2 separate regions of the Homo sapiens genome follow, and region 2 is linked to region 1. Evidence: fine-mapped expression QTL. A gene starts in region 1. The other region holds a variant in brackets. All regions are shown on one strand. Distances are between the middles of the regions.

What was found. PIP is the estimated chance that this variant, and not a neighbour inherited with it, causes the effect. A credible set is the group of variants that fine-mapping cannot tell apart.
Region 2: its variant is the best candidate, but not a certain one, in a credible set for the expression of FRMD1 in tibial nerve (GTEx, PIP 0.89).

What each region holds. Positions count from the first base shown.
Region 1 is chr6:168,076,657-168,082,019 of GRCh38, reverse strand. FRMD1 (FERM domain containing 1) reads left to right here and starts at 2,808. Exons shown (of 11, transcript NM_024919.6): 1 at 2,808-3,138. The coding sequence starts at 2,926. RefSeq lists enhancers at 1-167, 3,096-3,817.
Region 2 is chr6:168,099,215-168,104,577 of GRCh38, reverse strand. It overlaps LOC107986548 (a long non-coding RNA gene), which reads right to left and starts at 5,274. Exons shown (of 3, transcript XR_001743903.2): 1 at 4,748-5,274; 2 at 4,361-4,402; 3 at 3,654-4,119. RefSeq lists an enhancer at 4,846-5,347. The variant C/G (reference allele first, on the strand shown) is at 3,003.

The DNA.
Region 1 (5,363 bases):
TGGGTTGACCTATGGCGCACAGGTGCACTTCCTGCCGTATCTTGAAGGCTTTTTGCGTGACTGTTTTATAACTTGTGTATTTTAACAGCTTTATTGAGATATAGTTTGCATACTGTAAAATATATTCCTCTAAAGCGAAATGTTTCATAAACTTCAGAGCATTTAGGAACTGTGCAGCCATCACTGCCATCCGACCACCCCCAGAGGACACCTCGCCCCTCTGCAGTCCCTGCTGCCAGCTCCCTGGCCCCGAAGATGCTGCCTTTGCTGGATGTCTCGGAATGGAGCCCGGCCTTTTGCATCCAGCTTCTCCCTTGCAGTGGGATGTTTAGTCCTGTGCCTGTGTCAGTTCTGCCTTCCTTCTCACCACGGAACAGCATTCCCACATTGTTTTCCAAAACCTGTGCTTTGTGGACCTAGAGCTCCGAAGCTTGAGTTCTAGAATGTTCTCAGCAGGCCTCTATCTATCTCATGATAGAGGATGGAAACCAGCCGTCCAGAAGAAGAGAGAGTTGGGCCGAGGAGGACTCCAGGGCTCAGCCATGAGGAGATCTGGGCGGTGGTCTCCTCTTCCTCGCGGCCTCTGCCCGTCCACTGCCCGGCCCTGACATCACGAACGTGGCAGGCCAGCCTCTTCCATCACGAACAGGCCAGTCGAGAAGACAAGACATTCAGAGGTGGGGTCAGTGTTGGGGCCCGGTCACGCCTCTGCCTTCTCAGGGTGCAAAGTTGTCTTCTTGATGAGCTGAGGACAGAGGTTCTGGTGTCCCCTCAGTGCCCTGGCGGGAGGTACTCATGGCGACCACCCTTGCCTTGGAGCCTCAGCACGTTTTCAGGAAAAAGCCGCGCTCTCCCAGGAATACAACGGGGGCTTCCCAAGCCCAGCTCTCCCTGGCACTCAGATGGACGGCGGCCTTCACTGGAGGTCTGAACCTCAACGGTGTGGCCCTGAGACTCTGGGTGGGAAGGAAGGAGCTGGGGCCAGGGACGTCCTGCTTTGACAAGAATCCATTTATTGTGTTTATCAATACAAATGTGGAGTTTCCATTCCTTTTCCTTTTCTTCTCACTAATGATGTTTGGAGCTCATTGGCCCACGGTCACCTGTACACACCAGCGCCCACACACACCAGCGCCCACACACACCAGCACCCGCACACACCAGCGCCCACACACACCAGCGCCCGCACAAACCAGCGCCCGCACACACCAGCACCTGCACACACGTGGGGAACCATCGCTTTGATCATTAGTGCACCCAGCACAACTCCCCACCGTGTCCCCGGCTCTCCCCACCGAGGGGTCCTGGTGCCTGTTGTCCCCTCTGTGCTGTGTGTGCCGGTGGTGTTCTGCCACCCCCCAACCCTGGCCCCTGCCTGCCCTCTGCCACTGTCCTGCGCCCAGGCATCCTGAGAGGTGCAGCTGCTGCCGCCCTTCCTGATACGCCGGCACTGTGACTCCAGGCAGCGGCTGAGGGCACCCGGCACAGGGACGAGCTGCTCAGGCGCCAGTGGCACAGGGCCATGAGGATCCAGCCTCTGCTCTCTGGGGCTGTTTTTTTTTGTGGTTTTTTTGCCATTTTTAAAACTTTTTGTGCTCTCAGCTAAAGGGATCCCCACATCTTCCATAGTGAACAGCTCTACGTTTGCTGTGGAGAGAAAAGAGACCGCCACTGCTGTCTTGGGCACACATGTGTGGCCTCGAGGGTCTGGGAAGGGTCTGGATCTGAGCGGAGGGAGGGAGGGAGGGAGCCAGTGTCAGTCCAGGGTCCGGGGGAGGTGAGGCCTAAGCCTCCTAAATCTTCTCAACCCACCGGGCCGGGCCTTAGGGCGGCTGGAGTGCGAATTTCCTAAACCCACCGGGCCAGGCCTTAAGGCGGCTGGAGTGCGAATTTCCTAAGATGAACAACGGCCCGTCCGGAGGTCCAGACCCCTTACTAGAGGAAGGTCCCAGAGCATCCCAGACTCCATGGCAGGAAACTGATGGAGCTCACGGCTGAGGACAGAATTCCACAGCCCAGGCCCGTGGGAACTGCCTCTCCTGACCTGCAGCGCCCAAAGGTCTGGGTGGTCCCAGGGCCAGGCAGGATCCTGGGGTCCCTTCCCCACCTAACACTGTGCCAAAGAGCTCGAAGGCGTTGCTCATCTCTGCTGAGCGGCCTCAGGGGTTCCAGGCCCTGCGGGAGATGTCCCCACCCCTCGTGCTGATGCACCCGGCTGCTGTCCACGCAAGCCAGGACCCCCTTCCTGGCCTTCCAGCTGCTGCAGGCAGGAAGGGATTTGCTGGCCCTGGACAAGGAAGGAAGTGTCCTCAGTTTCCAGCCCCTAAAGGGAGCCAGGGTCCCTCCTGGCAGAACCTGTCCAGGAACGGCAGCTGTGCTGCTTCCTGAGGTCGATAACAGATGCCACAGGAGGTGTGTGGGGCAGGGTGCCCACCCAGGCTGCCTTCCTCCCGCCCTCCTCGTCCTGCCCTGCTGCTGCTCCATCTTCCCCAGCAGCCCTGGCTCTGGCATCTGTGCCCATGGGGTTTGCATAGCCCTCTCCACATTATAGAAGAAGGAGCAGGCACCCTGAGGAGATAGGGGTTGTCAGGTGGAGGAGTTGGGTCCTGTCTCCCCCAGCCTGGTTCTCACGGGGCCCACACCGAGGCTGGCTGCTGAGCTACCCTGCATGGGAGTGCTGCATGGCGGGTGCCCAGCCTGAGGTTGTTTATTTGCATTCCTGGCGCCCTCCACACACCCAGCTATTTGCAGCTCTGACCCTTGTCCTGGCTTGGCCATGCTGGATTCCCAGCCCAGGCTTCCCTCTCAATTCCCTTCCCAGTGAGAAGCTCGGCAAGGGCGGGTCCCGGAAAGCACAGCTGTGATCTGGGAGGTGCTGAGCACCCACCTGCGACCCATGGCGGGGGAGGGCCGAGTAACGACAGCATGGCGGTGCCCCCGAGAGGGAGGGGCATAGACCCCGCCCGGACAAACCCTGACACGTTCCCTCCTTCAGGGGCGCGATGTATGGAACCCAGTCCTGAGAGGCCTGCATGCAGTCAGCAGGAGCCGACCCTGGGAATGGACGCGATGGCCTCGGAACACAGGGATGTCCTCGTGCTGCTGCCCAGCCGGGAGCAACTGCGGCTGGCCGTGGGGGTGAGCAGGGCCCTGGGTGGCCGTGGGGGTAAACAGAGCTGTGGGGGTGAGCAGGGCTCCGGGTGGCCGTGGGGGTGAGCAGGGCCCTGGGTGGCCGTGGGGGTGAGCAGGGCCCTGGATGGCCTTGGGAGTAAACAGAGCCATGGGGGTGAGGAGGGCCCTGGGTGGCCATAGGGGTGAGCAGGGCTGTGGGGGTGAGCAGAGCCATGGGGGTGAGCAGGGCCCTGGGTGGCCGTGGGGGTGAGCAAGGCTGTGGGGGTGAGCAGGGCCGTGAGGGTGAGCAGAGCCGTGGGGGTGAGCAGGGCTGTGAGGGTGAGCAGAGCCGTGGGGGTGAGCAGGGCCGTGGGGGTGAGCAGGGGTATGGGGTGAGCAGAGCCTCAGGACACAGCCTGTGTATGGAAAGTCCCTGGACCGCCTCACTCTGCTTAGGCCAGGTGTCTGTGAGGTGTCAAGGGCCAGCCCTTTCACTGGGCCTGTGAAGGAAACATCCCTGATAGACGTTGCTGTGAGAAATAAGTTTATGGTTCAGCACATCCTTCCCGGGAGGGAGCGCTGAGGGAAGAGCGCCAGGAAGCCGGTTTCCAAGGAGCAGCTCCTGTCTTGTGTTCAGACGTCACCATCTCTATGCTTCTCTATTTCCTTTTCTTTTCCCTTTCCCCCATTTTGTCTACCTGTTTTAGTTGAGTTCATGGCGACAGGAGTTGAGATGGTACTTTCATTTTAATGATTAATGTGGATAATGAAAATGTGGCAATTAAAATGAGAGTGGTTTGTTGAAGAACGATGACTTTCTGCATAGCTAATGTATCATTGCTACCTGGAATGGAGTATGACTTGCTAGTAATATCCTGGTTCAAGTCCCCTGGGAATCTGGGAGTCTCTTGTCTGCTTCGGGATAGAGTTCTGTGTTTACGTAAACGCCCACATCTATGTTTGTGGCAAAATCTTCCCCAAGACTCTGTGTCCCCACCCAGCAACGAGAAGCTGGAGTTGAGCTAATGGGGGATGTCCTGTAGTTTCCTGGGGTCCCCAGCAGTGCCTCGGGCTGGGGGAGGGGTCATAAGAGGACCTGTTGTGGGGAAGATGCTGGGGCTTTGGCCCCCTACCCCATAAGAGCTGGAACTTTTAGGTTTCTTGCACGGAACTTCACGGTAAGATTTTAACTGAGGGATCATGCAGCTAGAACATAGTGAACCGCCTGTTCTGAACAGGTGAATCGTGCTCATCTGCTTTTGACGGAGCTCCCTGAAGTGCCTCTGCAACTCCTGTGGCCCCTGCTGGGCCTGGCAAGTTGGCAACCACAGAGCCACTTCCTATCGGGGTGTGCGCACATCTGTGTCTGCAGTTGGACAGGAACCCCTCACTGGGTTGTGCAGTCATCTATGTCTGCAGTTAGACAGGAACCCCCCCACAGGGTGTGTGCACATCTGTGTCTGCAGTTGGACAGGAACCCCTCACTGGGTTGTGCAGTCATCTATGTCTGCAGTTAGACAGGAACCCCCCCACAGGGTGTGTGCACATCTGTGTCTGCAGTTGGACAGGAACCCCTCATTGGGGTTTGCAGTCGTCTATGTCTGCAGTTAGACAAGAACCCCCCCCCATCGGAGTGTGTGCACATCTGTGTCTGCAGTTGGACAGAAACCCCCTATTGAGGTGTGCACACATCTGTGTCTGCAGTAGGAGAGGAACCCTCTATCAGATGTGCATGCATCTGTGTCTGCAGTAGGAGAGGAACCCTCTGTTGGTGTGTGCACACATCTCTGTCTGCAGTAGGACAGCAACCCTCTGTTGGGGTGTGCATGCATCTGAGTCTGCAGTAGGAGAGGAACCCTCTGTTGGGGTGTGCATGCATCTGTGTCTGCAGTTGGACAGGAACCCTCTGTTGGGGTGTGCACGCATCCGTATCTACAGTTGGACAGGAACCCTCTATTGGGGTGTATACTCGTGTGTATCTGTAGTTAGACAGGGAACGCTCTATTGGAGTGTGTGCACACCTGTGTCTGCAGTTAGACAGGAACCCTGTATTCAACCAAATATGTGTCAAGCCCAGTTATTCGAAAGGGATGGGCTGGGAAGACCCTCACTGAAGATCTGTGTTACCGTCATTGTGGGGCCTGCCCCTCACCAAGTTAAGCAGACAATAATCATATTAGTCTGTTCTCACGCTGCTAATAAAGACATACCCAAGACTTGGTAATTTATAAAGGAAAGAGGTTTAATTGACT
Region 2 (5,363 bases), 23 kb before region 1:
AAAGTGGCTGTGCCATTTTGCCTTCCCACCAGCAATGAGTGAGAGTTCCTGTAGCTGCCCTTTAAAAAGCAAGACACCAAAAACAAAGAAAAAAATCTCTTCACAACTGTTCCATTTAAGAGAAAACTCACATGGTGAGGCATGGCAGCCAAGGCCAGTGTCGGGAACATGGATTTCAGGCGGGTGTGGTCCAAAGACAAAGCTGACGTTCAGAGAAGGGCAATGGGAGCCTTTTAAAGCAACAAAATACAACACACCTGGGGCCAAATTTTACTGCAGGAGCGCTCCCCGAGGAGAAACTGACACAGGTGCTTTGGGGCGAGTTACTCAAGAAGCTGCTAGAGACCAGATGACTGACAGTGAGAGGCTGCACCTCTCCTGGCCGCAGCAGGTATGAAGAGCCAGGCTGCTGGCTCCTGGTCCTAAAGCTCTGCTCCGTTTGCAGCCAGAAATCAAACACAGGGAAACCACCTTGTTTCCTAGAATTAAAACATTTACTTTTCAGCAAGGTTGTTTTCATTTTTTTTTTGTTAATCCTTATTATACAAATAACTATTTGTTTTTAAAAATCAACAAGCAAAAAAAAAAAAAAACAAAAACAAAAAAAACCTGGACATCTTACTCCTTTTGATGTATTTTAATATATTTCCCTCCAGACACTTTTCTCTGTAAATATTAAAACATGGTTTTTTCAAATTGTCTTCCTTGTCTTCTCCATTAAAATTTGAAGTGATATCCTTGTCCTCCTCCTCTTCCTCTTCCCCAGGCATAAAATTTTTTATCTTTTTCTAGGGAGAAAGAAGCATTAAACTCCCAATCCGAACAGTCAAGAGCCATTTGCTGTTTTATTATACAAATGTCACATAAAACGTCCCCTCACGCCAGGGAACCACGTCTCCAGGTGGGTGGCATCACGGCAGCACCAGCAGCTGTCATTCTAGCACCTTCTGGACACATGAGGATTGACGAGTTGTGTGTCCTGTAAGTTAGACCAGGCAGGGCCATTGCTGCCGAGTCGTTGTGACACTGAAGAGGCTCCTGAGTTAAATCCCAATTCGCTCTCTCCATCAAGTCGCTGCTGCCATGTGTGATAACTCTGCGTACACTGACACACTTATGTACTGGACATCAGCAATACCTGTTATTTCAACACCCTTTTCACAAAGTAACCTCGTAATACTCACATGCACGTCATTTTGTGGCAATGCAGAGAATAAAGAGGTCTACAAGGGAAAGAGGCAACGCTGAGATGTGATTCAAAGATGAGATCACAGCCAGCTCCAAACAGCAGGCAGGCTGTCATCCGGGGCTATGTGGAGGACCAAGTCCATCTCCACAGAGCACAGGACCAGACGCAATGACTGAGCAAGGGCCCCATGGAGATCAGAGTGGACCAAGAGTGGGCTCACTGCCTGGGTGAAAGGTGTGACGAAGAGGCTGCTTCCAGACTACCCGGGCAGGTGAATACAGAAGTCGTCACCTGTCTGCTACCAGCTTATAAATAAACAAAAAGCAAAAATCACCCAGGGCAGATACACAACACCCAGGCACCACAACATCAAGCCCGTCTTAGTTTCTGGCTCCTGCTGGTCTGTGACCTCTTGATTCAACCCTCGAGCTCTTTGCCACCCAGTTGTCCTTATTGTGCAAGTGTGTGGATGGCATGAACCACCTTCATTTAAATGGTGCATTGCTCTGTTCCTGCTGGAGTGCAGAAGGAAGAGGAGGAGAAGGGAATTAAATCCACGTAGGAGCTACTTCCCCTAAGGCAAGGTGCCAGGTGCGCTGACATGACTGAATGGAGTGGGAGGACTCTACCTGAGCTGCTGTATTTGATCTGGGCCCTGATACATGAATTATTCATTCCGCCAAGAACTCTCCAGTGCCAGCAGCTCTTGGAGGTGCTTGGGTTTCAGCAGTAAACAAAACAGATAAAAAATATCTGCCCTGCTGGCACTTAAATTCTAACTGGGGGAGGCTGTCAAAATGAATGGCTAAATAGTATTATATGCTGGAAGATCAGCACTGAAGGAAAACTGGGAACATATGAGGCCTGGGGCAGGGGGAGGAAGGGGAAGGAGAAATCCAAACCAGGACGGTAGAGAAACGCCCCGAGCCCTGATGCTGGGCGGCCTGGAACCTGGTTCCCCAGAGTCTCAGAACACAGCCAAGGCTGGGTTCTGGGAGCTCAGCCTCAGGGGTCAGGAATGACGCCCTCTCTCCCTCTCTTTGCTCTCTCTCAGCCCCCAGCGTGCCTGGGGCCTCTGCACTTGCTGGTCCTCAATTTGGGACCCCCGACTTCCCCCTAAATATCCAAGAGGCCTCCTCCCTCGTTCCTAAAGGTGTCTGCCCAAATGTCACCCTCAGACGGGGCAAATCGCCCTGGGCCAGTGAAGCTTCAACTGCCCTCCTGGGCGGTGGTCTGGTTTTGCACGGTGATAACATCCATCCCTTCCTAGAGCTCCACCGCCGCGTCGTCTTCCCGCTCTCGGGGCTGGAACTGTCCCATCACCCATGCAAACCCCAGGACCATCCCCTCCCCGCCACTGTGCCCCAGGGCAGGTCTCCCCTCCGCGCTCCGCACTGCCCGCCCCGGGTCCACCGCATCCACCGACAACGCAGGCAGCGATGGCTTCAAATGCATGCCGCCGTTCCGAGTGTGCTGTCCAGGCCGTGAGGTCCGGGGAGAAACCCGGCAGCGGGGTCGCCAGCAGCCTGCAAGGCGCCGAACCCGGTGCGTCCGCGCAGGGAGCGGCCCGTCTGGGGTGGGTGGCGCGATCGCCTCTGCAAGGCTGGGATGCTGCAGCCCTGGGCCGGGCAATCGGGGGACGTGTGACCCGGGGATGGAGCGACCCTCCGGACTGGGCGACCCCTGGGACAGGCAACTCTGGGGCCGTGTGACCTCCAGGACGGTTCGACCCCCGAGACCCTGCACGGCCCGCGCTCCTGCCGGGGAGGGTCGGCTGGGCGGGGAGGGGGCGGGCGGCGCCGGCCAATCCGGA[C/G]CCCGGGCCGCGTCACCCTCCGGGGTCACCGCTGCCTCCCCACGTGGTCCCACCCGGAGGGCACAAGAGCGGCGGCCGCTTCTACACCGCCGGCGGGACCACGGCCCGGAGCCTTGAGCCGGACGACGAGCCGGACCTCGGCCCCCGGAAGGTGAGCGCGTGGGTCTCCGCGGGCGGGGTGCGCCCTTCTCCAGCCGCCGCCACCAGATGAGGGGACCCCGGAGGCGGGGAGTGGCGCTAACTGTCGAGTTTCAGGGGTTGCACCCCAGGGCCCAGAGCGCAGGGCCCAGGCGGCTTCCGCTGTCGTCCCCTCGGGGTTTCCAGGACTGAGGCGGGTCTAGGAGGACCCGCCGGCCCATGGGGGTCCCTGCCCCGGGCTAAGTGCACCCTGCCTGCCTTCTGGAAGGAGCCCTGGCCCTACCCCCCCGCCCCCACTTCCCCCTCACCTCCTCCCACCTCCTCCCTACCTCCCGCTATTTCCCCCATCTCTCCCCACCTCCCCTCCAGTCCAACACCCCCCCCTTCCCCTGTCCCCTCCCCTAGCCTCCTGTCTGCCCTCCCCGCGGCTCTGCGCTCAGAAGCAGATGCTGGCTAAGGGAATCGGAAGCTCTGCCTGCCTTTACGCCCTTCCCCACCCCACCCTCACCCTGGTGTGGGCTGGAATTTGGTTTTTGGAGCGTGTTTCTAGAGGGCTTTGGACCCTAAAAGGTGCCCACACAGGCCTGGAGGATCCTGGAGTCAGGCTCTGCTCCTGCCTTCTACAAACCAAGTTTTCTCCTCTCCCAGCGGCAGTCCTAGCTGTGGCTGCTTCCAGAGCCAAAAGGCTGGCACCCGAGATGAGGTACCGCCAGTGCTCGGAGCAGGAGGTGCAGACCCTGGCCAGGGTGCAGGTTTGAGTGATTTGTGTGCTGCAGGGGCAGGAACAGACATCAGGTCACAAAATGACATCTAAGCATTTAATTACCAAAGTGAAGACATCCTCACCTTTGTTCCATGAGGTCGTCCAAAGCTCCCCCTTTCTCCCGTCTTTGAAAGTAAGGCTGGCGTAGGAGGTGAGCGAACGTGGGAGCAGGACCTCCAGAAGGGTCTGGAAGGGTCCGGAAGGGTCTGGAAGAGCCTAGGTGGTGATGTTTCCTGAGTAGACTGAGCAGGGGTGGTGGGGAAGGGGCGCCGTCGCTGGGTGGCCCTAAATCTCGTCTCCCCCGACCCATGCCGCCTCTCCCCACCCATGCCTCTTCAGAACTTCAGCCCTCCTCTGTGGGACCTCCCCGCCCCAGCCCCACCTCCCCCACCCCCTGCCCCATTAAGTATTAAGGAAAAGACGACTGAAAACCAAAGTGGGCTGTGCCTTCACCTACCCTATGTGCTCCCGCGGGCCAGGGCAGGTGTAGTCTGTCTTTCTGCAGAAAGAGGCAGACAGAACGGGAGCTGGGGAGGAGCCGTCCCCAGCACCAGCCACTCCAGGTGGGGCGGGGAGTGCAGCCTGGTTGGCCGGGGGCACAGGGGGCTCTGTTAGTCGTCCCCCACTCAGCATCATTTGTGTCTCCTTTATCCCCCGTGGGCTTTAGAAGGTTTCTCTGGTGCCCAGGATTGCAGCACAAGAGGTCACCAGGCACCCCGGGCTTGGTCACACAATGGGGAGGCCTCTTGAGACTCAGGGTGCATTACAGGGCCCCTTCCAGTCTCTGGGCATGGCTAGAATGGCCTGGTGGGCTTGTATGAGCTCCACAGTTGGGAACACATACCCCGGAGGTGAGCAGGGGGTCCAGACCCATGGAGAAGTTTCCAGAGACAGCCGAGTGGTCATTGGGGTGCCAGTTATCCAGGATTCTGGCCTGGCGCCTGTCAGACCCCTTCAGATATGAACTTGAACTTGAACTCAGGAAACCTTAGGCCCCGAGAAGACTAAGGAAGTCAGGAACCTGAGGACCGCAGGGTGTTCTCTGCAGGATGCAGCAGGAAATGTCTCCCCGAAAGCCAGGCCAGGCGGGGCCGCCTGCCACGGAGATCCAGTTTAGCCAGGACGTATCGGCTCTGCATTGACTGTCTTTGGTGAAGTTCCTCCGCTGAGACCCCACAGCTCCTCCTAAGCACCTGGAGAGCGGCTGCATCTCATTTCTTCTGGAGAGGGGGATTCCCAGACTCAGCCTCACAGATCACTGCTTTCCCGGCGAGGAGGTCTGTTCGGCCCCTGCTAAGGGAGGGGCTTCGGCCTTGCAGGGGTTCAGTCACTTCCTGCAAGTACAGCGACTGCCTCGCATAGCTAAGGAGGCACTAGAGCTGGTCTGCTTATCCACGCTGTCACTCGGGGCTTCTAAGCTTTTAAAGTCGGTGTTGGGAGAGGTGGCAGGGCAAGGTTGT